Homo sapiens: one gene and its partners. Changing the gene in region 1 together with any one later gene gives a genetic interaction. Each region holds a gene or a part of one and is shown on either strand. Other genes may lie near its edges.

Region 1 (8,252 bases):
TGAGCCCTAGGGATGATTACTTGGCTGTGTACAAGGCCTCCCTCAGGCTGATTTGTGCCTCTGGGAGGGCACATGTCAGGGAGGGGTGGGGAGAGGCGGGCCAGTTCTCAGGCAGCGCCTGTTGTGCTGACCGGGAAGGTCTGAAAAGAGGCTGAAGCAGGTCAGGCCTCTCTGAGCCTCGTGGGAGCCGAGGCAGGCTCCCCGCATCCCTCAACTCCTCTGGCTGGCACCGGGAGTAAGGGCAATCCAGGCAGAGGGGCAGGGTGGAGGAGGGCGCGGGGGTCGGGGTGTGGTGTGGAGAGTGAAGAGAGCAGTGACCCAGCACAGTCCGCTGACGCTGAAGCCAGAATCAGTGGGCCCGGAGCCATGGTCCCGGGATTGGAGTCACTCGGGATTGGAGGGTGCCATGAGGTCCCGGGATTGGAGTCACTCGGGATTGGAGGGTGCCATGAGGTCCCGGGATTGGAGTCACTCGGGATTGGAAGGTGCCATGAGGTTCCAGGATTGGAGTCACTCGGGGTTGGAGGGAGCCATGGTCCCGGGATTAGAGTCACTCGGGATTGGGGGGTGCCATGAGGGCCACTGTCTGCTTCCGCCTTGTGCTGTGTGGGGGCAGCTCCTACTGGCTCAGGAAAGCCAACTGCTGAATTCTCAACAATTTTGCTAGCCAGTTGTTAATGATCATTAACAAATTATAGAAGCTTACAATTTGTGTTATTAAAAGCAAAATCGGCAAACGTCACTTCCTACTTATTTCTGCATACACGACTGTTTTCTCTGCCCCTCGGTTATGTACATCTGTGGGACCTATGGACACAAACACCACATAACAGGGTGCTGAGGGCATCTCCTCCAGCTCCACGTTAAATGACATCTAACTGGTAGCTTGAAATCAGCCGTGGTGGGAGGAGGCTTGACTTATGGTTACTTGTCTAGACTTCAGATGATAAAATGCAGATTAGACTTCAGGGTGCTGTGTCTATGCTCATTACATTGTGAATAGCACAAGTTGAGGAAACGCTCTTCTAGTTTCCGAAAACCATCATCTGATTCAACAAAGTGGCTCAGATCACCGACGAAGTGGAGAAGCTTGACGTTCTCCTTGTTTCCCTTTTGTCTTACTCATTAGCTTGAAGGAAGAGGAGCCAACTGTACACTCACAGAGGGGGCCATCAACACTCACATGCACACACCGTCTCACCCCAGAGGTTCTGGACAGGCCCGAAGGCCAACCTTGCTGAAATTCACCACCCTCTTTGGGAGGTGACCTTTCACCACCTCCCACCTCCCTGACAGAGAACTGGCCAGGCCTGAAAACCTCAGGAGTGGGAGCCACGCTCCCCCTTGGATTGGAATGTGAATGTCATGGGTCTCTGCCCGCGTTCCACACCTGGCCCCAAGCCCCCAGCTACCTGCTGGCAGCCTAGGAATAGCACATAGTCTGGGCAGCAGAATCAGGTTTATTGGAGGGATTGGGGGTAGGATGAGCACGGCATGGGGCTTGAGGTGTGTGGAGGGAGCTCAGCAGGCCCAGAAGCCCCCTTCCACCGGCAAAGTGGAACCCGTGGTCATGCCACTTCGGTCACTCAGCAGAAAGAGGATGGCGTTCACCACGTGCTCTACCTCTGTGGGCAGGGCGGGGGTCAGGGGCATAGAGGAAGGAGGCTGCCGCCCATCTTTCCCTCCCACCCCTACCCAGGGCACACACAGGGACTGCTGGCACCACGCTGGCTGGGCTCCCACCTGACTCACCAGCAAACTTGCCAAGTGGGATTCGGTTCAGCATAGTCTTGGCCTTGTGGGGGTCACTCCAGGTGGCCTGGCCCATGGACGTCATCACCACTGTGGGGTTTACTGCATTCACTCGGATCTACACCGGGACAGCTGGGGTCAGCAGGGCAAGTGGGGTGTCCTAGGTTGGGGGAGGTACCCCAGCCCTGCTCACCTTGTGGGGCCCGAGCTCTAGGGCCATCACCTTGGTCAGCATGTCCAGGGCACCCTTGGTGGAGCCTACGAAGAGGAACCCAAGCTGGCTGGGGCTGGGGTCGGTGATGAGGGCGAGGCTGGGGCTGGGGTGGGGCTGAGGGCACAGCTGGGGCACTCACAGTAGACGCTATGGTTAGTTACTGCCCGCTGGGAGCACTGGCTGGAGACATTCACGATGGCCCCTGGGACTCCCCGGGCTATTAAGCCCCTGGCCACAATCTGGAATCGCAGCGAGACCGTGAGGCAGAGCTGGCATCACTCACGAGAATTCCCGTCCAGCCCACAGGGCAGCTCACCTGCGACACCTGGATGACCGCACGCAGGTTCACCTCAAAGGATCTAGAGGCCGAGGGACAGACCCTGGTCAGAGATTAGGGCTGCTGCGTCCTCCAGGACAGCCCCTCCCTGAGGTTCCTCCGCCCTCACAGGCTCACCTGTCAAAGGCCTCCTTGGTGACCTCCAGGAAGGGCTGCAGCAGGGCGACAGCGGCGTTGTTCACCAGCAGGTCCACGGGGCCCACGCTGCCCAGCGCCCGCTCGGTGGCCTCCCAGTCACCCAGGTCCACGCACACGGGTTCTATCCCCGGGCACTGTGTGTATCAGGGGGCAGTTACCAGAGGCTCTGTGCCCAGCAAGCGGCACAGCTGGGGACTGGGGCTGGTGACCTTTCAGCCGGACAAGTAAAGGAGTTAGGAGTTCCGAAGGTGTCGGGACTGTGGGGCCAGCAGCCGGGCGCTACCTCCGGCCGGTTCACTTCCTCCCTGCGCCCGAGCGACTCCTGCCCGGGGCCTGCTTCGCAGCCATTTCGGCCTCTTTCTGAGCCCGGGGGCCCCGGCGGCTCTGCCGACCACCCGGCCGCCCACGCAGGCCACCAGCCCCGAGAGAGGGTGCGCGGGCGCCCAGGCCGCGGTGAGAAGCGCAGCGCCCGCGAGGGGAGGCGGAGTCGCGCACAGAGGTACCGCCCCCGCTCGCTGCCGCCCCCTCCTGGCTCGCCGCCTCGCAGCGCTGGGACCCGGCGGGACCTACCTCGCGGACAAGGCTGTCAAGATCCGCCTGAGTCCGGCTCACAGCCACCACCCGCGCGCCCGTCGCGTGCAGCGCCTGGACCGTGCCGCGCCCTATACCTGCCGGGAGCGGGCTCAGTGAAGGCGTCCCCTGCCCGCCTCTGCCCGCCGCCGGCCTTTGCCCACCTTTCCCCGCCGCCCACCTTTGCCTGCCCCGGTGACCAGCACCCGGCGGCCCGCGAGGAACAGCTCCATGTCGGCGCAGTCTCCGCCCTCCGCACTGGGGCTGCGGAACTTGAAGCTCTGGCCACGATGGGCGGGGCGCGGCGGGGCCAATGGCAGGGCGGCCTTCAGATAGGCGGTGGGGACATTCAAATAGCTGCTCCCCGCTGCAGTGATTGGCCGAAAGGAGTGGGCGCGCCGGGGCGGGGCGGGGTCTCCGCTGCCTCAGGGACGGGTCTTTTGAAGTGCCTGGTGTGACCCATCTTCCGTGCTTGAAATCGACGTAGTGGACCCTGGCTAGCATATTTTTCCCTGCCAAGATTATTGCAAAAAGACGATGTGGTGGTTAATATCGGAAAGAATGTGTGGTTAATATCAGGAAGAACACGTGAAATGGAGAATTTCAGGGCTAACATTTCTTGTTTTGTTTCTGAAAACATCGGCATGTCCTAAAAAGTGTCGCCTGTGCCCATCATCTCTCAGGCTTGGGAGCAGGACACCGCCGGCTCACTTTAAAGCCAAGGGAAAGAATTTGGACAACCAACTACGTCTGGAGAAGACACCAATGTCAGCAGAGCTCCGCTTTCATCTGTGGGCGAAGGATTACCTAGATGCCAAGGCAAGAGACTGAAGACACAAACTGTTTCAGTATAACAAAGAAAATAGGCCGGGAGCGGTGGCTCACGCCTGTAATCCCAGCACTTTGGGAGGCCGAGGCGGGTGGATCACGAGGTCAGGAGATCGAGACCATCCTGGCTAACACGGTGAAACCCCATCTCTACTAAAAATACAAAAAATTAGCCGGGCGCGGTGGCGGGCACCTGTAGTCCCAGCTACTCAGGAGGCTGAGGCAGGAGAATGGCGCGAACCCAGGAGGCGGAGCTTGCAGTGAGCCGAGATTGCGCCACTGCACTCCAGCCTGGGCGACAGAGCAAGACTCCATCTTTAAAAAAAAAACAGTTAAAATAAAAATAGTCATAATACAAATTAGATATAAAAATGATCATGATCATGGATAATTATCAATCATTAGTATAAACATTATTAATCATTAGCTTTTAATATTACTCTTTGTTGCATTACTAATATAACCTAGGGACATTGTGAGAAGTGACCTAGAAGGCAAGAGGTGAGCCCTCTGTCACTCCCGCATAAGGGCTGCTTGAGGGCTCCTTGGTCAAGCAGTAATGCCGTTGTCTGGGAAGCCACCCGTTACTTAGAAGACTGCGAAGGGGAGTCTCCTTTCCTTGGAGGCGTCAGGGAACACTCTGCTCCACCAGCTTCTTGTGGGAGGCTGGATGTTATCCAGGCCTGCCCGCAGTCATCCGGAGGCCTAACCCCCTCCCTGTGGTGCTATGATTTAATGGTCACATTTCTTGTCCACTTCCATGTTCCTCCCGTACTCCTGGTTCCTCTTTGAAGTTCGTAGTAGATAGCAGTAGAAGAAATAGTGAAAGTCTTAAAGTCTTTGATCTTTCTTATAAGTACATAGAAGAAAGCGCTGATGTATGGTCTTCTCTTTCTGTTTCAGCTACCTAAAAGGGAAGCGCCCCCTGTCCTATGATCACGTGACTTGCTTCACCTTGTCAATCACTTGGAAGATTCACCCTCCTTACCCTGCCCTCCTTGTCTTGTATGCAATAAATATCAGTGCGCCCAGCCATTCGGGGCCACTACTGGTCTCCGTGTCTTGATGGTAGTGGTCCCCCGGGCCCAGCTGTTCTCTCTTTATCTCTTTGTCTTGTGTCTTTATTTCTCACAATCTCGTGTCTCCGCACACGGGGAGAAGACCTGCTAAGCCCCATAGGGCTGTACCCTACATTCATCTGAAAGGGACTTGAACCCCAGGTCACCTTGGACAGCCAGCATCCGGCCAGGGGCACCTTTTAGAAGTTGAATAGGATAGGAAGGGATTGGGGTCATGGAAGTACATGGTGGTCCAGCAAAGACCAGCATTGCTTCCCGAGGCTTTGGGGTCAGTTACAGATGCGTGTGTGTGTGCACCCACACACTGGGCCTCCATGTAAAAGCTACTTTGTTCTGTGGGTCATGGTAGGAAAGTCTAGAACTACTGCCCTTCTGTGGCCAGGAGTGACCTTCTGTGGCCAGGAGTATGGAATTGGTGACTGTAGGGCCTTTGGATCATCTGGGGCTTTGGGCCCACAGAGGTGGACAGGCCGGAGGCAAGGGTGGCCAGGCACAGCAGGAGGCAAGGTCCTGGTTTGTTCTGGAGGACAGCCAAGTGCATGGTCCATATCAGACCTGGCACTGCGGCCAGTCCAACCCCCCCTTGGCCGCCCTGTAAACTCTGCTTTCTGCCCCTACCCTTGGAGCCTGCTTTCTGCCTGCCAGCAGCCAAGGGAAGGACACCCCTCAACCTGTCCTTCCTGGAAGGCCCATCTGCTTAGACCCCTCCAGCGGCCTGCACGTGCCCCCAGGAGAGTGGACCAGGCCTCACTGGTCCTGTTATCCGTGGCTCAAGCCCTGCTCCCTGTGAGTCCTGCTGGCTGGTCAGAAGCACCCTCGGCATCCCCTACCCCCACCCTGTGCCCTGTGCCCTCCCAACCACTGCCTGGAGGGCCCGATCCTGGCCCCTAGCCCTCTGCCCTCTTGCCCAGCTTTGGAAGATTCCCAAGGTCTGGGTAAAGTTACCAGTATCCAGATTCCTTCTCGAGCTCGAACCAACATTACACTTTTCCTAGAGTCAAAACGGGAGTTAACACAAGTATATAAATGACAATTAATACATTGGATAGTTTGATTGTTCGTCCAAATTTTGATATTCCCCACTAACAGCATATAACGAAGCTTAACACAACTCTATAGGAATAGTCACATTGGAGGTGAACAAAGCAGAATGTCTGAATCTACACTGATACTGAGGGAGAGGAGCAGTGGTGGCCACACCCGATGTTATCCGCTGTCAAAAAGCAATTTGAAGGGCCGGGCGCGGTAGCTCACCCCTGTAATCCCAGCACTTTGGGAGGCTGAGGCGGGTGGATCACGAGGTCAGGAGATCGAGACCATCCTGACTAACACGGTGAAACCCCGTCTCTACTAAAGGTACAAAAAATTAGCCGGGCGTGGTGGCGGGCGCCTGTAGTCCCAGCTACTCGGGAGGCTGGGGCAGGAGAATGGCGTGAACCCGGGAGGCGGAGCTTGCAGTGAGCCGAGATCGCACCACTGCACTCCAGCCTGGGCGACAGAGCGAGACTCCGTCTCAAAAAAAAAAAAAAAAAAAAAAGCAATTTGAGGTGCCCGGGGATGCTGAAGAGGTAGAGTGGCATACCTGGGTTGAGAAAAATTATCGTAATGCCAATTGGAGTCCCATAAAAGAGGACTGGCATCAAAAAGAGGAAAAGGGTTCAAAGGAGATTTATCATGGGGTTCAGAATCACGGACGCGAGGGGCGGTAGCAGGGACAACAGACAGAAAAGTTTCCCCTTCCCATACTCGCAGTCTGGATGTGGCAAGAGCCAATTTTCAAAGTTCTGGGTGTTCTGAGCTCAGAATGGGGAGTATCACACGAGCCCTCGGGGGACAATGTCCTTATTTTCCCATTTTAAGGGAAAGAAAGAGCTGAACCTCCTATACAAAGTAAAATGATGATCCTCGTTCTTCCAATAAGAAATAAAACAAGTAGCCTCCAGGCATTCCCTCCCGCCACAGGAGCAATTGTTTTTTAAATAGCCCTTTGGTACCCAGTCTATTACTAAACCATATGAGTCAGTTTTGGTTTTTTTTTTTGAGTCGAACAAGCATTTCTGTGAACCGGACCGATGAACGTTTCTACACAACTACCAAAGGGAAGCGGGTCCCCACATGCACTCAGGAAAAAGAAAAGCCACGTTGGCGCGCCAGATATCGGGGGAACCAGCCCCCAGTATTTCAATGTAGGTTCTTTCTATTTTCCATAAGTGTTGGCTGGCTGAGAAATGAAGAGAAAGAGTACAAAGAGAGGACTTTTACAGCTGGGCCTCCCAGGGCGACATCACATATCGGTGGGACCCTGATGCCCGCCTGAGCCGCAAAACCAGCAGGTTTTTATTAAGGATTTTGAAAGGGGAGGGGGTGCAAGAACAGGGAGTAGGTCACAGAGATCACATGCTTCAAAGGGCAAAAAGGAGAACAAAGGCACTTCAGGAGGCCAAGGCCAGTGGATCACCTGAGGTGAGGAGTTTGAGACCAGCCTGGCCAGCGTGGTGAAACTCCGTCTCTACTAAAAATACAAAAATCAGCTGGATGTGGTGGCACGTGCCTGTAATCCCAGCTACTCAGGCAGCTGAGTCAAGAGAATGATTTGAACCTGGGAGGCGGAGGTTGCAGTGAGCCAAGATCGCACCATTGCACTCCAGCCTGGGTGACCAGAGTGAAACTCCGTCTCAAAAAAAAATAAAAAATAAAAAGTTTTAAAAAAATTTTTTTAAAATAAGGCTGGGCGCGGTGGCTCATGCCTGTAATCCCAGCACTTTGGGAGGCCGAGGCGGGCGGATCACGAGGTCAGGAGATCGAGACCATCCTGACTAACACAGTGAAACCCCGTCTCTACTAAAAATACAAAAAATTAGCTGGGCCTGTTGGTGGGTGCCTGTAGTCCCAGCTACTTGGGAGGCTGAGGCAGGAGAATGGCGTGAACCTGGGAGGCGGAGCTTGGAGCGAGCCGAGATCCCGCCACTGCCCTCCAGCCTGGGTGATAGAGCGAGACGCCATCTCAAAAAAAAAAAAAAAAAAAAAAGACTGAGCCCTCAGAGACACAGCTGCAGTGAAACCATTAAATGGAGGCCAGTAGCATGTGAACCACACAGGCAGGGCCAGAGGGAGCACAGGGGGCTTCCTGGAGAGGTGGGAGGAAGGCATGACTGAGAGAGAGCACGGGGGACCCTGGGAGGGAGAGGCCACCTGTTCCTGGCCTCATGTCTGTGTGCACACACGCAGAGGCACATGCCAATGTGAGCACAAGCACTTGGGCATACACACAGGGACACACACAGGCACACATGGGCATAGACACACATGAGCATTCACACGGGGACACAGGCAT
Region 2 (8,157 bases), on another chromosome or scaffold:
ACGTGCAAAACCCATTCTGGAGTGCATCTTTTCACTGGCGACCAACCCAGTCCTAAGATAACCTTCTTAATAGTTCTATGGAGGAAGCTGCAAAGGCAGAAGTGACTACAACCCACAAAAGTCATGATGGAGCCCTGACGTGTGTGTACACACACACTACATGCACACACACACACACAACACACACACTACACACCCACCGCACATAACGCACACACATACACACTCCACACACACACCACACACTCCACACAAACATATCACACACATACCACACACATACACACCACACACATACCACACACTACACACACACACACACACACACTACACATACACACCAAACCCACATGCACACATTCACACAGCATACACACTACACACATGCACACCACACATACACCACACACACTACACACATGCACCATACACACCACACACACACCACACATTACACACATACACAACCACACACACCACACACACAATACACACACACCACACTCACTACACACACACCCCACACACAGAGCACTCCACGGTCAGCCTTCTACCCCGGAAAACTGCTTGTGCAACAGGCTGGATCTACCAGACGCTCCTCACTGTGCTCGCCTTCCAGCTCTGGGGCAGACTCCGGTGGTGGGACTGAGGGTCAGAGTCCCCAATCCTAGACCCCCACATCCACTTGTCCTCATGGGGCTGGTGCTCATTTCCCTGGGAAGCCTGGGAGAGTGGACCCAGTTCTCCTGTCCTGGGGCTCTTTTAAGTGCACCCACACTTGGCAACACTGGGGCTGGGCCCAGTGCAGGGTTCATAAAATACAGCCCTTGCACTGCCAGGGGCCTGGCACATTCTGCTATTCTTGCTATGTAATGACCCAGCAGCCCCCATCCTGGATGCTGAAATCCTACCCTTGTCGTCATGCCACAGCTGAGACAGTCAGTGTTCACCAAAGCAGGTGCATTCTCTCTCAGGACACTAGTGTTCTCCATGGGAACGCTGAGGAAGAACATCTCTGCCATCCCTGGTGTCGCTGTGAAGCTGCTTTTGCCCTTCCCAGGAGCTGACACTGCAGATGAAGAGACAGCACTGTGATTTCTGGAAGAGACAGCACTGTGATTCCTGGTCCTAATATCTTGGCTTTGTTTGGGTTTTTTTTCCAGATGACCATTCTAGGGTGATTCTGAGCCAACTGGATGGAATTCCCTGTTCAGACTACATCAATGCTTCCTACATAGATGTAAGTGGGCAGAGGTTTCTTGTTCCCCTGGCCCAGCTGGGGCATGAGCAGTAAGCACTTTCTTGTCTGGTGCCCGGAGTGTAAATTGTCACAACCTTTCTGGGCAGTTTGGCCACAAGCACAAAGGGTACGGAACTGCCCGTGCTTTACACACTGGCATCAGCATCTGGGAATTTGAATTCAAGAGACAGAGATGATCACAGAGGATGTTCACTACAGCATTATGTATATTCCTGACCAAATAGAACAGGGAGCATGGGTAGTTAAACAGATTGTGGTAAAACCATGTGCAGTGGACTATTAGAACTTGATTTGTATTAATCTTTAAAAGATCATTTAATATCAATTATAAAATTCCCATTAAAAATACAACATAAAATAAATTGTACATGTTCACCCAATTAGAGGACAGAAATGTCTGCATGTCTGCTTGTGGGTGAGTCTGGGAAAGGTTTGGCAGAAAAACAGACTAGAGAGGGGACGTATGAAGTAGGATTTGTTATTTCTGGAATTGCTGGTGAGTTTTCTTTCCTTCTTAACCTTTTCCTGTGTTTTGCAAATTTTCCATGGTGAATATGTACTGCTTTCCTAACAGCAACACCAACAAATCCTTTCAGCAAAGATAATTCTGAAAAAATATAAATCTGATGTTATTTTTTCTAGGGTTACAAAGAGAAGAATAAATTCATAGCAGCTCAAGGTAAGCTTTTTATTAATTTCTCAACGTATTTTTGGTAACGTGAATAGCTCTTATTTCCTTCTCTGTATGCCAACAAGACCAAGGACTTATACTGGATTTGTGTGTGTGTGTTTACACCTAACAGACACGTTAGATATCCATTCACACAACGGATATGTGTAGTCAGAGAAACACACACTTATTCCCACACCTATATGGTGTGAACACAGGGCACGCAATGGCCCCGGCTGCCATTCCAGCTTGTTAATACTTGCGTCAGATAACCTTGAATTTCTCTCAGCTGGCTGAGCCCTACATGGCTCCCCAAGTTTGGGCGAGGGGTTAGTGGGGTGAATAGCTTTTCAGATCAAGGCCATAACTAAGAATATACTTCAGCTGTGAAAACGTGCCCTTCACCTTGCACAGGGCTACCTTGTGTGTTGAGTACTGAATCCAGCATCACTCCGTTCCACCAGAGGTTGTCATCTGCAGGACCTGGTGTACGTGCGGTTAGATATCAGTGGAGCTGAAACCAGATTCCTCAGACTTCCTCACTCTTAGGCCAGGAGTCTTTAGGGCAATGAGCTCTGAAAGTCAGCGTCCATCAAAATCACCTGGGAAGTTGTTACAAATGCAGAATCTCTAAGAAAAAAGGACACACATGTGCACACGCAGAGGCCATCAGGAATGTGCCCAGCTGGAAACCTCAGGAAACCTGACGATCCTGGCTGAAGCAGATGAAAGCATGTGTTTCTCTCTTGCCAGCAGACACCCACAGGGAGCTAGCCCACGGCAGGACAGCAGCAGGGCCAGGGGCTTCCTTATCTCCCCGCCCATCCCCCTCAGCACGTAGCACTTAGCTCGGGACTGCAAAATAGCCGCAGCTCAGACAGGAAGTGGATAGGGGCAGAGGACTTTCTCCTAGTGACACTTTGTCTGTTGTTCACATCCCCCTCCCGAGGGACTTTAGCTCATATCGTATTGGACAGCACCATGCTGAGAGTAAGATTTTGACAAAGAGGAGGGGATTGGGAATGCAGGGTGAGGCTGGCCAGTCTCTGCCTCTCGCAAGGCTTTCACCAGCTCTCCCACACTTGGCTGTAGACCCAGCCCTCATCTGAACCCTGCTTCTTACCTGTGAACGTCATAACTCAACCTGGGCCCAATTATCTTGCCCACTGAGGAGTTCCTAGCTGGAGTGGGTGAGTGGCAGGACAGGCAGCCCCTACCGGTTCCGGAACGCTTCAGGGCATGACGTGTGTGTCCCCAACAAGCCTGAGAAGGGAGTGAACAGCTGTCCAGGGGCCAACGGCCAGGGTGCCGGGGCTGGGACCCCAAAGGGACTTCCCTTCATGCCTTTTGACTTCGAAATTGTCCTCTACACACAGGTCCCAAACAGGAAACGGTTAACGACTTCTGGAGAATGGTCTGGGAGCAAAAGTCTGCGACCATCGTCATGTTAACAAACTTGAAAGAAAGGAAAGAGGTGAGTTCCAGGCATCTGGCCCCGGTATCACTTCCTTTCAGCTGCTGCTGCCGGGCTGGGGATGTTCTTACCACTTCCTTTTCCTACTTCCCTCCCTTCCTCCCACTATCACTGCAGAAAAAAACCCAAACACATGCAGTGGCTTACAGCATTTTCTTCACGAAACAAATCCCCTGTGTCCCCAGCATCTCACTGTTATCTAATCTGTGATAACACAATGACACAAGAGTTTCCTTTTTTTCCCAAGTAAGAGTGGCCCCCGGCTGGCCCCATGGCTCTGCCTGCCTGATGAGAGACATGAATCTTAGAGTTTTAGGATGTTGAGCGTGTCATGCGGCAGAGCTCAGGCTAGAAATGAACATGATTTCGCGCTTATTATCCAGACTAGAGAAATGCTTTTGGAAAACGTTGGTATATTGAAGAAATGTTGATTTGTCATCCGAATATATTTAATTAGCTGTTTCTAATTCAAAAAAGGATGCATGTACGTTATAAGAATTTGAATCATTGACAAAGAAGAAAAGTTGAACTGATTCGTTTCCTAATGTAACAAGTACTCATTAGCATCTGCTGTGCTGGGCCAGCTCTGTCCCAGGTGCAAGGAGTAGGGGCTCAAATTCAGGGCTGAGAAGTGGTGGCTGTGGGGAGCCTGGGTGCGGGGGTGGGGTTGAGTGACAGGCAGGGAGCCATGCCATAGGCAGTGAGCTCACTCTCCAGAATGAAAGAAGAACTGGGAGCCTGAGGGACACTTACCACAGGTGGGGCGAAGTTAGGAGGCTGTGCTTCTGGCGTGTTCTGGCATGAAGGCCCGGTTCAGTGGGAGCCGTGTGTCCTGCCCGGCCCTGCTCAGGGCCTGCTGTGTCCTGAGCTCCTCAGTCATCTGCTGGCCTGGCCCCAGCAGTTCCCAGGCATTGTAGCGAGGACTGTGGGGAAGGGCTGCCATTTTTAGATGGGAGTACCAGGCCTTGGGGAGCTCAGCTGGGGCAGAAGATGGGTGGCAGGAGCCCACAGGAAGGGCAGGCTGGGAGGTGCTCTGGTCCCCGCAGTGCCAGCTTACTAATTGCCACCCAAAACACAGGAAGCAGCCTCCAGCCACCGTTTCTGGTCAGGAATAGGATGGAGGCTTTCATTCTGCTCTGGGGGGAGCTGAAACAGGACTGTGGAGGGCCACCCCTTTGCCCTTGCAAATCTTGCCCTTGTCATGCTTTGTCATGGGGAAGAGGGAAGAGTGACAGAGGGAAGTAGGGGATTCCCAGCCCAGGACTCTTCACTCTGCCTGCGCTGTAGCGGCCATGGAGGAGGACACCCACGCGAGGGAAAAGGAGGCTGACCCTTCATCAGGAGCCTCAGGGTCCCCCGTGACCCATGGCCCATAGGGACCAGTCTTCCTGGGGTTGGTGCTCCAAGCATGAGACCAGCACAGAAGCAGTGGGGCTCAAGGACGCCCTCACTTCCCTCTTTCAGTCATTCTGCTGAAAGTGTCACTGGCATTTTCTCTCCATCTTCCCCCACAACCTCCTACTGGATTTTTCCACTCCTGTGACTCAGTGCTGGGCTGCTGCCGCGTCCTCATTCTCACCAATTCAGATGAAATCATTTCTCAATAGAGTTCCCTTTTTCTTAATTGCTCACACTTCTGTTGTGGTTTCCTTGGCTTCCACATCCTGGGCTCTGCATTGCAAAACACAGCTGCCCTGGCATCTCATGATCGGGTGGGAGGGAGGCAGAGGGAGGGGGTATAAAACCAGCCACCAACACTGAGCCCTTGAGAGGCTGACACATGTTCTCAGTTCCTACTGGAGAGCCTTCAAGGTGAGAAGCTCAGGAGGGACCCCAGGGCTCCCCATAGGGCCAAGACTCACCCAAACCGGGACATGTAGGCATTTGCAATTCCCCTGGGCTGCATCAGAGATGGCCTGTGACCCACAGCCCCGCAGCCCCGCCCGGAGCCAGGTGTAAGGAGGGGGAAGTTGTCGGTAGCCGTCATAACACAATGATGCTGCTCTCTACTAAATACCAGATGCTGTTTGTTTCATAAGACTGTTAATCCTGGAGGCTTGACCACGAGCTGTGCTGCTCAGGGGCCATTCCCTGGATATACTCTCTGACTACTGGCAGGCTTGTTCCATTCCAGACATGTTTCTCTGGCAGATGAAGTAGATCTTTTCCCCCTTGAGGTGGGTCCTCATTCACTCGCGAAGTGATGGAGGACACCACCGGGCAGGTGCTGCGGGCGGTGCTGCAAAATGAAAGGGCTCCTGGAACGTGTATTTTGGGTCATTCTTGCTTCAGAGGTCGGGAAGGTAAAGAAATGGGCCTGTCTGTAGCAATGCACCCTCTTCTGCAGACTCCACGGCAGCCTCGTCCCTGCTAGAGAAAAATGAAGATCGTTAGACCAATCATAGGTTCATCACTCTTGAATGGCAGACTGGCAGTGGTGCAAATTAACTTTGTCCTTAGTGAACTGAGCAGGAAAAACACAAATTGCTGAATCCAGTGGGAAATGTCTGGGGGGAGCACCGTCCTTGCCCTCTAGCCTGAGGGTCACTTGGAGTTAGGTGCCCAGCTCTGAAGGCTACAGGCTCAGCATAACTGGTTGATGGTCAGTTAATAAAATGTATGGGATTCGTGAATGAATGAAGAAATGAGACATTGTTGCTGTCTACATCAGAAAGCCTTGGGGCATCCTAGTCATAGTTTCAAGGCTGCTGTTCACCAGTTACGCAGCCTCAGTTTCCCCATTCAAGAGGTCGACACACGTGAACTTGTTTCTCAGCTGTGGGAGCTGTGTGACTCCAGCTGGTGTGTGTGAGGCCTTCTGTAGTTGGGTGGGGGGATGTCATGATGCATTGCACCCACAGATCTATTTGCTTCTATTAAATTGTTCCGTGCAGGAAAAGTGCCATCAGTACTGGCCCGACCAAGGCTGCTGGACCTATGGAAACATCCGGGTGTGCGTGGAGGACTGCGTGGTTTTGGTCGACTACACCATCCGGAAGTTCTGCATACAGCCAGTAAGCATCTCTAGTTGCTGCCCTTCCAGAAAGATCATTTTCAGAGAGCATCATGCCCAGAGTTAACATCCTTCTGCATTTATGAAGTGCTTTGCTCCCAGCCCGGCACTGTCGCAGCCCTGGCTGAGAGGGTGCAGTGGCCAGGCTGTGATAGGCAGACATGCAAGAGGGCCAAGACACCAGAGGCCGGTGCACAAGGGTCTGCAGGCAGTGCTGGGGGCTCCTAATTCCTAGTGACTCCTCTGGGCCTCTCCAGGAGGAAGACCAGTCATTGGAGGGGCCTGGGGGTGAGGTCCTCCCTCAGTAGCACAGTGACATTTCACACACTGACTGGGAGGTGGGGTTTTTTTCTAACACTTTCCGAATTCTGTCTGAAACCTCCTCGTTATTTTCCACACTTGGGTTCTGCTAGTTCCACCACCCCAAAAGGTTTAAGAGAGAGATCAGTAAAAATATGTGTATGCAAAGCAGATGAAATCAAGATATAGAAGAAAGTTTAAAACCATAGAGAAAAGACAGAAGACCATTTTGTCAGGATTTAAAGATACAGTCATTGGCATAATTAGGTCACAAAATAAGTGTCTGAGGTTCCAAGAAGCCACAGCAAAAAAGGAAAAGGATGAGCTGATTATTCTTATCCTATCCCCTGCTGGCATCTCTCCCAGAAATGTGCACACAGGCGCACACAGGCACTCACATGCACACGCACACACATACTCCCACACACAGGCACACACATGCACACATGCACATACACCCACACACAGGCATACACATGCACACACACCCACACACAGGCACACACACGTACACCTACCCACACACAGGCACGCACATGCACATACTCCCACACACATGCATGCACATGCACACGTACACCCACACACAGGCACACACATGCACACACACGCACACAACCGTACAATGCATGCACGTTCACACACACATGTGCACACACACCCCACTCACATGCACACATGCACACATTCACACATGTGCACACACATACACCCACACACATTCACATGCACACACATGCACACACGCACACACATTCATGCACATGCATACATGTGCACACACACGCACCCACACACGCACAGATGCACACATGCACATTCACACATGTGCACACACATACATCCACACACATTCACACACGCACACGTGCACACATGCACACATTCACACATGTGCACACACACATACACGCACATGGGTGCACACGTGTACGCACCCACATTCACACATGCACACACATGCATACATGTGCACACATTCACACGTGCGCACATACACACATTCACCCACACATACATGCGCACACATGCACACATACACATGCATACATGTGCACACACATGCACACACATCTACTTCCAAATACGCTGTGTATCACCTTCCGTGATCTGGGCAAGGGAATTAAACTCATGGGCTCTGGGTCCAAAAGCTGAGAGAGGCTCTGAGGGCAGGTCTGGGAGACTCCAAAGAGCAGGCCGACTGCATCATCTGTCCTCCCAAATGTAAGACAGCTTTGCCCAAGGAAGGATGTGCTGTTGGTGATTACTCAGCACCACCGGCCTGAGGTGGGACTGTCCAGGCAAGATGGGCCATGGCCGCCCTGCTTGCACGGGGGTCTGTGAGCACACAGACCAACTTTGGGGATGTGTCTGGCTGCTTGGGCCCTGCCTGACCTGGGCATAGACGGTTGCTGCGGGCCCTGTTCTGTGGCCCCAAA
Region 3 (3,776 bases), on another chromosome or scaffold:
GGACACAGGTGTGGACACAGGTAGGAGCAGGGTCCAGGGTTCAGGCCAGCCGGGGTGGGGCCCGCTGCCACCGCCAAGCCCTGCCCTTCACAGGCAGCTGAGGGACTAAGGCCCCGGAACAACCTCCCTGGGGTCACCCCGAAGGTCTGGTCCCCTCAGGATACAGGAGGGGCTGGGTCACTGACATGGCTCTAGATGCCCCACCCTGGTGGCAGGGCTGGGGTGCAAGGGGACACCGTGTTGCTGATGGGGAGACTGAGGCACAGGGCCCTGGGGGTTCCAGGAGCAGGAGGAGGCCAGGGCTGGCCTGTGGGGCTCTGGTGTTGGCTATAGGTGAGGTGGACCCCGCAGACATTAGCGCAGCAGGGCAGGGCACTCAGGTGGCTGCCGTGGGGTGGATGGACCCGGGGTGAGGGCGCCGGGGCACCTGCCACAACCAGTGGCGGGCAGGGTGGCTGGCAGGAGGGTGGCTGGTGGGTGGGCTGCGGCTGTGAGAGAGCAGTCGGGGACGATGCCTGGCGTCCCGGCCTGGAACGGTGGCAGGTGGACTTTGCCAAGTTGTAGGGTGGGGAGGTGGGGCTTCTGGTTTTGGAGGGAGCTCTGAGGGGAGTGCGTGCAGGTGAGGGTCATCGTGGCACAGACATGGGGGGCAGTTACGACTTGCGGACTGATGGTGTGTGCGCTGGGTCCCTGGGCCAGTGGGGTAAGCAGGTGAGGAAGGGAGGCTGAGTCCATGAGAGAAACAGCTGGGGGAACTCACCCTGGGGGTCTCCAGGAGGCCTGGGAGGGAGCTCAGCACCGTGGGGTGCCTCTTTCCAGCCTGTGTCCACACTGCTGCTTGCTGGGCCTCAGTGCCCCTGATGGGCGTGTGCCTGGAGGGGGCTGGCAGTGAGCTCACTGAGGGGAGGGCTGCTTCCCTCCTGGGGAATGCCAGCCCATCCTTGCCTGGAGTCCCGGCAGGAAGGCAGCACCAGCCCTGAGGAAGGAGAAAAACCAGTTGGGCTGTGAGAGGGGTGGTGGGAGCCCTGGACATCGAGATGGGAGGAGGCAGGGCCTCCAGGGTGCCACCGTCTCTGGGTGCCCGCCAGACTTGGAGCTCTGCAGAGGGTGGTGTAGGGTCTTGATTTCCGTGGGCCCATGCTGCCCAGCTGCCTCCAAGGCTCCTGGCTCTGCAGGCGACTGGGCTCCTCTCCTGGTAAACTGCTCCCAGGTCCTGGCTTGTCCACTAGATGGGCCTGCCCCCTGGGTCTTCAGTCTCCCCGTTGGTGGGCCTGGCCCTGGCACGCCTCTCTGGGCAGGTGGGCTCCCCTGGACAATGCCCTGTGCCCTGTGACTTCACAGGTCCGGGCAGAGCACCCTGGAGGGGAGGGGAGGGGACACACGGCCCAGCTCTGAGAAAGCCCCGGGGAGGGGACAAGATGTGGAGGCTCCTGGGAACCTCATCCCGCCCTCTTCCTACACAGGACGGGAAACTGAGGCTGGGGATGGGCAGGGGCAGCTCTGGGAAGGGGGTTGTTCAGAGGGGCCTCTGCTCCCACTCGGGTCATGGCCTTCACACGCACCTCGGCCCGCAGGGGCCCCTTACTGGACACGGCCCGAGCGGATGGACAAGAAGCTGCTGGCCGTGCCGGCCGCCAACACCGTCCGCTTCCGCTGCCCAGCCGCTGGCAACCCCACTCCCTCCATCTCCTGGCTGAAGAACGGCAGGGAGTTCCGCGGCGAGCACCGCATTGGAGGCATCAAGGTGGGCGCGGCGGGGTGGCTCTGGGCCTGGCAGGCGCGGTGGTTGCTGCCTCCGCTCACTCACCCGCCCGCGTCCCGGTGCAGCTGCGGCATCAGCAGTGGAGCCTGGTCATGGAAAGCGTGGTGCCCTCGGACCGCGGCAACTACACCTGCGTCGTGGAGAACAAGTTTGGCAGCATCCGGCAGACGTACACGCTGGACGTGCTGGGTGAGGGCCCTGGGGCGGCGCGGGGGTGGGGGCGGCAGTGGCGGTGGTGGTGAGGGAGGGGGTGGCCCCTGAGCGTCATCTGCCCCCACAGAGCGCTCCCCGCACCGGCCCATCCTGCAGGCGGGGCTGCCGGCCAACCAGACGGCGGTGCTGGGCAGCGACGTGGAGTTCCACTGCAAGGTGTACAGTGACGCACAGCCCCACATCCAGTGGCTCAAGCACGTGGAGGTGAATGGCAGCAAGGTGGGCCCGGACGGCACACCCTACGTTACCGTGCTCAAGGTGGGCCACCGTGTGCACGTGGGTGCCGCCGCTGGGGCTCCTGGGCTGGCCCCAAGGGTGCCCCTTGGCTGCGGGTTGCGTGAGGATTTGGGTCTAGGGGTTGGAGCTTCGGGGGCAGAAGCTGTGGGGGTGCTTGTGGGGCCAAGTCTCAGCCACCCCACACCTCAGGGCCATAGGCAGCTGCGTTGGGACCCGTTTCCGTGTCTGCAGAGGGCCAGCCTCAGCCACTGAAGTCCCTGACATGGAGCTGCCCACGGGCTTCTTGGGGGTGGGTGCGGCTTGGGCAGCAGTGGTGCCCCAGGACAGGAGGGCAGTGTGGCCAAGCCCTCCAGGCCCCCTCTGGGCCTCAGAGGCGGTGGCTGAGCCCCGACCTGGCCGATTGGCTCTCGTCAGCTGTGTGCAGTGGGGCCCGAGCTCACTGTCTGCCCGCCTCCTGAAGCCCTTAGCTTTGTTCCCATGGCTGCCGGGTGGGGGCCACTGAATTGGGACGGTTGCGACACTCAAAGCCCAAAGAGAAACATCTGTTCAGAGAGAAGACGGTCTCTTGGGGGCGGGGAGCAGGCGCAGGGCGAGGGTGGAGTCCAGACCCCGCCCAGAGAGGCCGCCTCGGGCCCTGTCCAGGGTGCAGGTTCTGCAAGAGCCCGGGGGAGGGCAGGCCAGTGACCAGAGGTTGTCTGAGGGTCTGGGCTGGGTTGTTGGGGTGGAGGCAGAGACGTGCATCCTGTGAAACCACAGCCACCGTGAAGTGCCTCCACGCCTCCTCCAGGCAGCCTTTGGGGCTGACGCAGCCCAGCCTCGATCTGTACCTTGGGGGTCTCCCACATCCTGCCTCGTGCCCGGCGGGGCTGCCTCGGGGGCGTGCCTGAGCCGGGTCTCTTGTCCCCGCAGTCCTGGATCAGTGAGAGTGTGGAGGCCGACGTGCGCCTCCGCCTGGCCAATGTGTCGGAGCGGGACGGGGGCGAGTACCTCTGTCGAGCCACCAATTTCATAGGCGTGGCCGAGAAGGCCTTTTGGCTGAGCGTTCACGGGCCCCGAGCAGGTAACGACTCTGTCCCATGCCGGCCGGCACAAGAGCTCCAGCTCCAAGGCCCTGGCCGCGCGCCCTGCACGCCCCGCACGCCCAGCCCTGCTCGCTCCCGCCCCGGCTCGCGCTCCACTCGGGGCCGCCTCGGCAAGGCTGGCAGCTCCAGCCTCCACGGTGACCGCCCGCTTCGAGCCCTGTGGCCTGCGCCGACCCTTCCCGCACGCCTGCGACCCCCACAGGAGGTGCCCGGTGCCCACCGGGCCGGCTCCGTGCCGTCTGTGAGCACCCCTTTGCGCCTCTCTCCACCCCTGCCCGCTGCCTGCTCGCTTCCGCAGCCTGTGTGTCCCTGTGTCCATCCTCCACCTGCACCCGCCCGGCTCTGCGCTAACCCGCATGCTGCCTGCCCGCCTGCCGCTCACCTGGGACAGAGGACTCGCCGGTGGAGGGGCCTGGCTTCGGGCTCAGTACCGGTGTACCAGGCGGAGGGCCCTCAGCCGCGTGGCGGTGACCAAGTTGGCG
Region 4 (8,157 bases), 3.9 Mb from region 1:
AAGATGTGGCTCAGAGTTGGACTTCTTGGACCCAGAAGCAAGTGCTTTTGACGCTGCACACAAAGACTTTCTGAAATTAATTTAGAAAAGCTGTATGCCAGGTGTGGTGGCCCACGCCTTTAATCCCAGCGCTTTGGAAGGCTGAGGTGCGTTGATCACTTGAGGTTAGGAGTTTGAGACCACCCTGGTCAACGTGGTAAAACCCCATCTCTACTGAAAAAAAAAACCAAAAATTATCTGGGCATGGTGGCAGCCTCCTGTAATCCCAGCTACTCGGGAGGTTGAGGCAGGAGAATCTCTTGAACCCGGAAGGCAGGGGTTGCAGTGAGCTGAGATCGCTCCACTGCACTCTAACCTAGGCAACAGAGCGAGACTCCACCCCAAAAAGAAAGAAAGAAAAACTCTGAACTCTGGGAACAACTCTGGGATGAGGTTACTTTGGAATGCAGTCGCAGGTTCCCTCTACATGTAGCCTTTGCTTCTGCCTTCCCCACTACATCTTGGAGAAGGTTACTCCTCCCACACTTCCTGGGACCACCTGAGTACCATTCCTGGACCTCTTCCCCATAGAGAATTCTGACTTCCAACCCTCTTTGTAGGGATATTATACCCTGCCTGCTCTGCCCTGCTCTTTTCTGGCTGTGGTGGGCTCAGTCTGCATACCACTAGGGACAATGAGGAGCCAGGCTTGTTGGGGAGGGGTCTCCTTCTCCCACTCCTCCCGCCGTGGACCTCACCTGACCCTCTCTCCTCTTGCAGCACAGAGTTGATGAGACGCGTCCGTCGCTTCCAGATTGCTCAGTACAAGTGCCTGGTGATCAAGTATGCCAAAGACACTCGCTACAGCAGCAGCTTCTGCACACATGACCGGTCAGTCCCTGCCCCCTGCAGTCCTGTCCAGTGGAAAATCACAAGGCACAGGACACACTGTTAGGACTCTCTTTAATGGGGATGGTTAATCATTTGAACATTGAATGATTCAAATCAGCACACTTTCCAAGGTGCTTGGCAAGGTAGCGCACACTCTCCACTCCCTGGGCTGGAGCCAGTGGTTCTCCACTGAGGGTGATTTTGCCGCCAGGGTCCATTTGACAATGTTTGAAGACATTTCTAGTTGTTGCAACTGGAGGGGGGAGGGGATGCTTTTGGGCTTTAATGTGTAGAAATCAGGGACACTGCTGCTAAGGGTCCTATGGTGCAGAGGACGGCCCCCATGCAAGAACGAGCTGGCCCCAAATGTCAGGAGCCTGCCAGTGTTCAGAAACTCTGCCGTAGGGTTTCAGCTTCACACAGGCTGCAGACTGGTTTGGTTTGGCCTGCACGTTGATTTTTGTTTAATTTTTTAGTTGTCCGTTGTTGGCTGGCTCCCCCGTCACCTGGCAGCCTTCACGCTTCCCTGTTTTATGTGTAGCTGTTTGAGCTCGCTGGACATTTCCGCCTGCAACCTCAGTTTGGGAGTTAAATTCACTTCCTTGGCAGCAGATGTGGGCCTGATGTTTCTGAGCCTGAGACGCTTTGCTTGGTCCTCTGGACTTGTCCACCTGGGCACCCAGTGGCAAAGCCATGCTGTGCCACACATTATAGGGCTTCAGCCTCAGAGCCCTGGCTGGGAGCTGTATCCGAGAGTTGCTATGGCTGTGCAGAGAACAGATCCACCCGGCGTGTGGCCTTCGGTGGGAGCTGAGGGGCTCCTGAAGCCAGATGCTGGTGGAGTGGAGGGTGCTTGGGGCTTGGAGTTGCATGTGGGAATTTAACCGCACTTCGTGACCATGCTGTCTGATGTAGGTCATTTACTTTTCCAAATTTGCTTCCTCATTCCTAAGATGCGATGTCCACGGCACAGGGTGGTGTTACACCTGGTGGGGACAGGGAAAGCAGAGGAGGTCACTTCGTTCCAGCTGTTGGAAGTACAACTTCTGGAGTCAGTCAGATCCGGGATTAAATATGAGTTCTGCCCGTGTGTCACAAGTCATCTCTAACACGGGCCACAGAGGCCAAGGCTGGGCCAGCAGCATTGATGGCTCGAGAGGCTGCCCTTGCAGGGGCCACAGCTGGCCTCCCACCTGCCCTCACTTTGTCTTTCTCTGTTTAGGGAGGGAAGAGGGAATTTAAAATGCCCAAAATACTGTTTCACACATTCTTTCCAGAACTCGAAGTAGGATTATAGCAAGGTAATAACGAAACAATAGTTGTAAAGTATGTTTTTTTGTTTGTTTGTTGTTTGTTTTTGGGACAGGGTCTCTCTCTGTCACCCAGGCTGGAGTGCAGTGGCTCAATCATAGCTTACTGTTACGTGACCCCAAACCCTTGGGCTCAAGTGATCGTCCCACCTCAGCCCCCTGAGCAGGTGGGACTACAGGCGCACACCACCACACCCAGTTAATTTTTACATTTTTTTCACACAGTGTCTCGCTGTGTTACCCAGGCTGGTCTCGAACTCCTGAGTTCAAGTGATCCTCCCGTCTTGGCCTCCCCAAAGATTACGGGCATGAGCTGCTGTGTCTGGCCAGAATACAGGATTTTAAAAATTTATGTTTTGCAACATAATTAATATAAAGACAAATATAACCCAGGCCCAGTTCTAGTTATTCATTCTTCTGAATTTTAAAAGGAAACATTTGGCTGGCCCCTAATGGTATCATGGGCCCTGGTACCTGATGAAGTTGGCCTAGTCTGCCCCCAGCTCCTGAACAGTGGAAGAGTTTTTAGTCTCATTGAGCTTTGTACTGGACATTACTAATTTCTAATCCAAAGCATCAAGTGAAGTGGCTTGTATAAATAACTGGTTTTCCTCTGGGAGGCTAAGGCGGGTGGATCACTTAAAAGTTAGGAGTCTGAGACCAGCCTGGCCAACATGGTGAAACCCCATGTCTGCTAAAAATACAAAAATTAGCTGGGTGTGATGGTGTGTGCCAGTAGTCCCAGCTACTCTTGTGGCTGAGGTGGGAGAATCGCTTGAGACCCTTGAGAATTGGGAGGTAGAGATTGCAGGGAGCCGAGATGGCGCCACTGCACTCCAGCCTGGGTGACAGAGCAAGACTCTGTTTCATAAAAAATAAATAAATAACTGGTTTTCTGGACGAGGGCCTTTCCCATAGGTGCTAACTTCTCAAAGCCCGGCTGGGTGAACACTGAGCCTGCTTTGCAGGTAGCAGGTGGTCACGACAGTGCCATTCCCTGGCCCCTGCATTGTGGCTTCTGGCCTCCCTGGCCCTGCTCACGCTCTGGCTTTCTCTTCCCAGGAACACCATGGAGGCACTGCCCGCCTGCCTGCTCCGAGACGTGGCCCAGGAGGCCCTGGGCGTGGCTGTCATAGGCATCGACGAGGGGCAGTTTGTAAGTTGGCTTGTCTTGGCATCACTCTTCCTGCCAGCTTCCGCTCTGTCCTCCCGTTTTCCCTCGCTGACTTGGAAGTTATCTGATCTTTTAGTAAAATAACAAGGTTAAATAGCTACAACTAGTGTTGGAATACCCTCTGAAGGCCCCTTTCTAGTTTCCCTGTCATAGTGTCATAGTCTTGTAGGATTCGTTTTACTTTTTTTTTTTTTTTTTTGAGACGGAGTTTTGCTCTTGTTGCCCAGGCCGGAGTACGATGGCACAATCTCACCGCAAACTTTGCTTCCTGGGTTCAAGCAATTCTCTCCTGTCTCAGCCTCCCGAGTAGCTGGGATTACAGGCATGCGCCACCACGCCCAGCTAATTTTATATTTTTAGTAGAGATGGGGTTTCTCCATGTTGGTCAAGCTGGTCTCAAACTCCCAACCTCAGGTGATCCGCCCCGCCTTGAACTCCCAAAGCGCTGGGATTACAGGCATGAGCTACCACACCTGGCCATTGTACCTTTTTAAAAATACATATATCTATTTACTGGCAAGATGCAGTGACTCACACCTGTAATCTCAGCCTGTGGGAGGCCAAGGTGGACAGATCACTTGAGCCCAGGAGTTGGAGACTCACCTGGGCAACATAGTAAAACCCCATCTCTACCAAAAAAAAAAAGAAATTAGCCAGTCATAGCAGCGCACACCTGTGGTCCCTGCTACTCAGGAGGCTGAGGCAGAAGGATGGAGCCTGGGAGGTCGAGGCTGCAGTGAGTGGTGATAGCACCACTGCACTCCAGCCCGGGCGACAAGGCCAGACCCTGTCTCAAAAAAAAAAGGGGGAGGTGGGGAGTAATGTTTGGTTTGCCTCATGGTTCCTTTTGCTTGTTTCTTATACGTTTATTTTCTTGTTGTTGAAGTACCTTTTTTAGTAGTTTTTGCAGCCAGGAGGTATAGATGGGAAGCTGCCAGTCTTTGTATGGAAATCTTTCTTTTGTCATCTAGTTTAAGCTGGGCAGCAAGAGGTAGGTTGATCTTGTGTGGGTTTGGGTTTTTTTTTTTTTTTTGAGACGGAGTCTTACTCTGTCGCCCAGGCTGGAGTGCAATGGCGTGATCTCGGCTCACTGCAACCTCTGCCACCCGGATTCAAGCGATTTTCCCACCTCGCCTCCCAAGTAGGTGGGATTACAGGCACCCACCATCATGCCTGGCTAATTTTTGTAGAGACAAGGGTTCACCATGTTGGCTAGGCTGGTCTTGAACTCCTGACCTCAGGTGATCCACCCGCCTTGGCTTCCCAAAGTGTTGGAATTACAGGCATGAGCCGCCGTGCCCGGCCTTTTTAATTTTTATTTTTTTTGAGATGGAGTCTTGCTCTGTTGCCCTGGCTGGAGTGGAGTGACGTGATCTTAGCTCACAGCAACCTCCGCCTTTTGGGTTCAAGCAGTTCTGCCTCATCCTTCCGGGTAGCTGGGATCACAGGTGCGTGCCACCATGCGTAGCTCATTTATGTATTTTTAATAGAGATGGGGTTTCACCATGTTGGCCAGCTGGTCTGGAACTCCTGACCTCAGGTGATCCGCATGCCTCAGCTCCCAAAGTGCTGGGATTACAGGCGTGAGCCACCACGCCTGGTCTTGATCTTGTTGCTTTGAAAAGTAGCAGCGCTGGTCATTGTGTTTTTGCTCAGAGGAAGGCCGCCATCTCTCTAATGTTACCTCTGGTCAGGTATTCTATCTGTTCTCTCTCAGCACAATGTGTGTAGGGGAAGCTTTGTTTCATTTATCCTGCTTTATAGCTGGTGTGCCTTTTCATTTCTGGGGAAGGAATGAAGCCATTATCACTTCAGGTATTTCTCTCCTCATCCATCTCTGAGGTGTTCTGGGTTCCATCTTCCAGAGTGTGTTTTGTTTCAGTGACTATTTTTACATCTGCTGCTCTAATTCATCATGCTCCGTTTTGTTTGACAAGTTACTGTTGGGTTATTTTTAAATTTATGCTGTTCCTTCCATTATGTTCCTGAAAATCTTTTCTTAGACTTTTCCAGATTTTTCTATTTCCTCAGGAACATATTCTGTGGTTGAGTTTCTGGGTTATTTTCTGTTATCTTAGTTTTCTTTCCTCTGCTTTGGAGATTTTATTTTTGTTAGTTTATCACAAAGAATGAAACTGAAACTCTCTCCAAGGGGTTTAGCAGACTTGACCTCTTAGGTACTTTTAGGGTTGCCTCGAAGTACACAATGTGGTGGTTTGATATAAACATAACAGGAATTTATTTCTCGCTCACAGACCCCCTACGTGGTTCCAGGCCGGTTGATGGGGAGGCCGCCCACGAGGCGGCTTAGGTCGCCCTGGCTGGCTGTATACAGACACGGAGGGGAAGAGACGTGGCGGAGCCCCTGGGTGTGAGGTTTTCATGGGCCTGACCAGAAGCTGCAAACGTCACTTCTGCTGATCTTTCAAAGACTAGAACCTGGGCACAGGGCCACCTATACGTTTAGTATACTTAGTCCAGTTCGTTTTTTGTTTGTTTTTAAAAACAGTCTTGCTCTGTGGCCCAGGCTGGAGTGCAGTGGCGCAGTCTCGGCTCACTATAACCTCCATCTCCCAGGTTCAAGTGATTCTCCCGCCTCAGCCTCCTGAGTAGCTGGGATTACAGGCTTCTGCCACCATGCCCAGCTAACCTTTTGTATTTTTAGTAGAGACGGGGTTTCATCATGTTGACCGGGCTGGTCTGGAACTCCTAACCTCAGGTGATCTGCCTGCCTCAGCCTCCCAAAGTGCTGGGATTACAGGCGTGAGCCACCACGCCTGGCCACACTTAGTCTAGTTCTATACCCTGGAGGAAGAATAAATGAGTTGGTTTGGTGAGTGCTTCGAGGTCTCTACCCGCCCTGCCTCCCAGCACAGAGCCAGGCCGCTCTGGCCTGAATACCCTGCCCGGACGTCACAGGGCCTGTCCCCTCAAAAGGCCAGTCCTGCCTTCCTGGTTCTGTTCTTGCCCAACATTCTGTATGAGTCACAGCTGCAAATTCCATTCCCGTGGGGAGGCTGACGGGTCCCTTCCCCTGTGCGGGGCATCTGCCCTGTGGAGTTGAGGCTGCCAGTGTCCGCTCTGGGTTCCCGACCACCCGGCAGCTGGCATCTCCTCCCCGCTTGGGTATGGCCATTCCGTTTCTGACCTTCAGAGGTGCGCCCCTGAGCACCCCCATGCCTCTGCGTACGTGGAGACGTCGTTGTTGCTGCCCCGTGCTTGAGGGACTCCTGGCGAGAAAGTGAGCCCAGGCTGGGAATAGGGCTGCAGCTGTTCTCTTTTGCTCCCAAACTGTGGCCTCAGAATGCATCCAGGGATTTTGCATCAGCTTTGGGGACATGGCCCTCTCAGAACAAGGAAGCTTCAGCTTTGGCAAGGCTCTCCCTCCTTCAGACCTGCCGCTGTGAGTTGTTCAATAGCTCTGTTCTCCTGGCTCTGCGTAAACCTTGTTGACAGAGGCTGACCCAGACCCCCGAGGCAGAAACCTTTCCCTTCTCCTTCCTCGACATCCAAATGCCCTGAGTCAGGAGCCAGCGTATGAAGTCCTGTCCCCTGTTCAGCCTATAGGAGGGATTTCTCGGTCTACTTCCTCCCTGGCCAGCAAGTAAAACTTGAGTTCATTCAGTGAGTATTTATTACACCCTACCCAGACATCAGCATTCTGCCCTGGCCTCTGTGTGCCCTTGTTCTCTTCAAGAAGTTCCGGGTCACCAGCCTGACCAACATGGAGAAACTCCGTCTCTACTAAAAATACAAAAATTAGCCAGGCGTGGTGGCGCATGCCTGTAATCCCAGCTACTTGGGAGGCTGAGGCAGGAGAATCGCTTGAACCCGGTAGGCGAAGGTTGCAGTGAGCCAAGATCGCCCCATTGCACTCCAAGCCTGGGCAACAACAAGAGCAAAACTCAGTCTCAAAACAAAACAAAACAAAAGAAGTTCAGGGTCTTCCCATTGCAAGCAGTTCTAGATCGAGGAGAGGGGTTCCTAGCATGGGACCCAGCAGAAGGACTGTCCTTCGCTCCTTCATTGTCTACGTGGACAGTGGATGAAGCCCAGCCGAACCTGCCTTGTTCCCGTTTTCTGGGTCAGCAGGGAAAGCCTTTCACAGAGTAGCCACCGTGCCATCCTGAGGAAGGCCCTGGGTCAGAAGCTTCTGTGCTTCTTTGTACCCCGGGCGAGACACACAGGTGCTCACACTGCTCTGTAGAAACTGTTGGCATCCAAGAGAGACTCACCTGGAAATCTCTGGAAAACCTGAAGCTCCTAGCTGGGGGTGCTGTGCTTCAGATGCTGGTGGTGGGTGGGCACCCTTGCATCAACAGCTGCACAGTGTGTGGTGGGCTTGCAGGGTCGCTTGGCAATAGTAGGAGCTCTGATTTATTTTTTTAAACTTTTTTTCTGGCTGGGCACGGTGGCTCACACCTGTAATCCCAGCACTTTGGAAGGCCTAGGCGGGCGGATCACTTGAGGTCAGGAGTTTGAGACCAGCCAGGCCAACATGGTGAAACCCCATCTCTACTAAAAATACAAAAATTAGCCAAGCGTGGTGGCACACACCTGTAATTCCAGCTACTTGGGAGGCAGAGGCACAAGAATTGCTTGAACCTGGGAGGCAGAGGTTGCAGTGAGCCAAGATTATGCCACTGCACTCCAGCCTGGATGACAGAGCGAGACTCTGTCTCAAAAAAAATAGACAAAGCCAGGCGCAGTGGCTCATGCCTGTAATCCCAACACTTTGGGAGGCCGAGGTGGGTGAATCACGAGGTCAGGAGATCGAGACCATCCTGGCTAACACGGTGAAAC

The links.
Region 2: changes in DCXR (region 1) and PTPRE together harm fitness more than expected from each alone (negative genetic interaction), as found in Homo sapiens cells (one large-scale study listed by BioGRID).
Region 3: changes in DCXR (region 1) and FGFR3 together harm fitness more than expected from each alone (negative genetic interaction), as found in Homo sapiens cells (one large-scale study listed by BioGRID).
Region 4: changes in DCXR (region 1) and TK1 together harm fitness more than expected from each alone (negative genetic interaction), as found in Homo sapiens cells (one large-scale study listed by BioGRID).

Annotation. Positions count from the first base shown.
Region 1 is NC_000017.11:82,034,439-82,042,690, forward strand, and holds DCXR (L-xylulose reductase), read right to left. Parts: upstream 3,260-8,252; 5' UTR 3,245-3,259; coding exon 3,193-3,244; intron 3,110-3,192; coding exon 3,012-3,109; intron 2,576-3,011; coding exon 2,421-2,575; intron 2,326-2,420; coding exon 2,283-2,325; intron 2,206-2,282; coding exon 2,106-2,205; intron 2,011-2,105; coding exon 1,946-2,010; intron 1,871-1,945; coding exon 1,753-1,870; intron 1,626-1,752; coding exon 1,522-1,625; 3' UTR 1,420-1,521; downstream 1-1,419. UniProt on the Homo sapiens protein: Catalyzes the NADPH-dependent reduction of several pentoses, tetroses, trioses, alpha-dicarbonyl compounds and L-xylulose. Participates in the uronate cycle of glucose metabolism.
Region 2 is NC_000010.11:128,059,776-128,067,932, forward strand, and holds part of PTPRE (receptor-type tyrosine-protein phosphatase epsilon isoform 1 precursor), read left to right. Parts: intron 1-911; exon of another isoform or gene 912-1,069; intron 1,070-1,163; coding exon 1,164-1,240; intron 1,241-1,903; coding exon 1,904-1,940; intron 1,941-2,351; exon of another isoform or gene 2,352-2,650; intron 2,651-3,307; coding exon 3,308-3,405; intron 3,406-6,299; coding exon 6,300-6,419; intron 6,420-8,157. UniProt on the Homo sapiens protein: Isoform 1 plays a critical role in signaling transduction pathways and phosphoprotein network topology in red blood cells. May play a role in osteoclast formation and function.
Region 3 is NC_000004.12:1,799,793-1,803,568, forward strand, and holds part of FGFR3 (fibroblast growth factor receptor 3 isoform 1 precursor), read left to right. Parts: coding exon 1-20; intron 21-1,574; coding exon 1,575-1,744; intron 1,745-1,827; coding exon 1,828-1,951; intron 1,952-2,042; coding exon 2,043-2,233; intron 2,234-3,121; coding exon of another isoform or gene 3,122-3,272; intron 3,273-3,776.
Region 4 is NC_000017.11:78,177,768-78,185,924, reverse strand, and holds part of TK1 (thymidine kinase, cytosolic), read left to right. Parts: intron 1-759; coding exon 760-870; intron 871-3,242; coding exon 3,243-3,336; intron 3,337-8,157. UniProt on the Homo sapiens protein: Cell-cycle-regulated enzyme of importance in nucleotide metabolism. Catalyzes the first enzymatic step in the salvage pathway converting thymidine into thymidine monophosphate.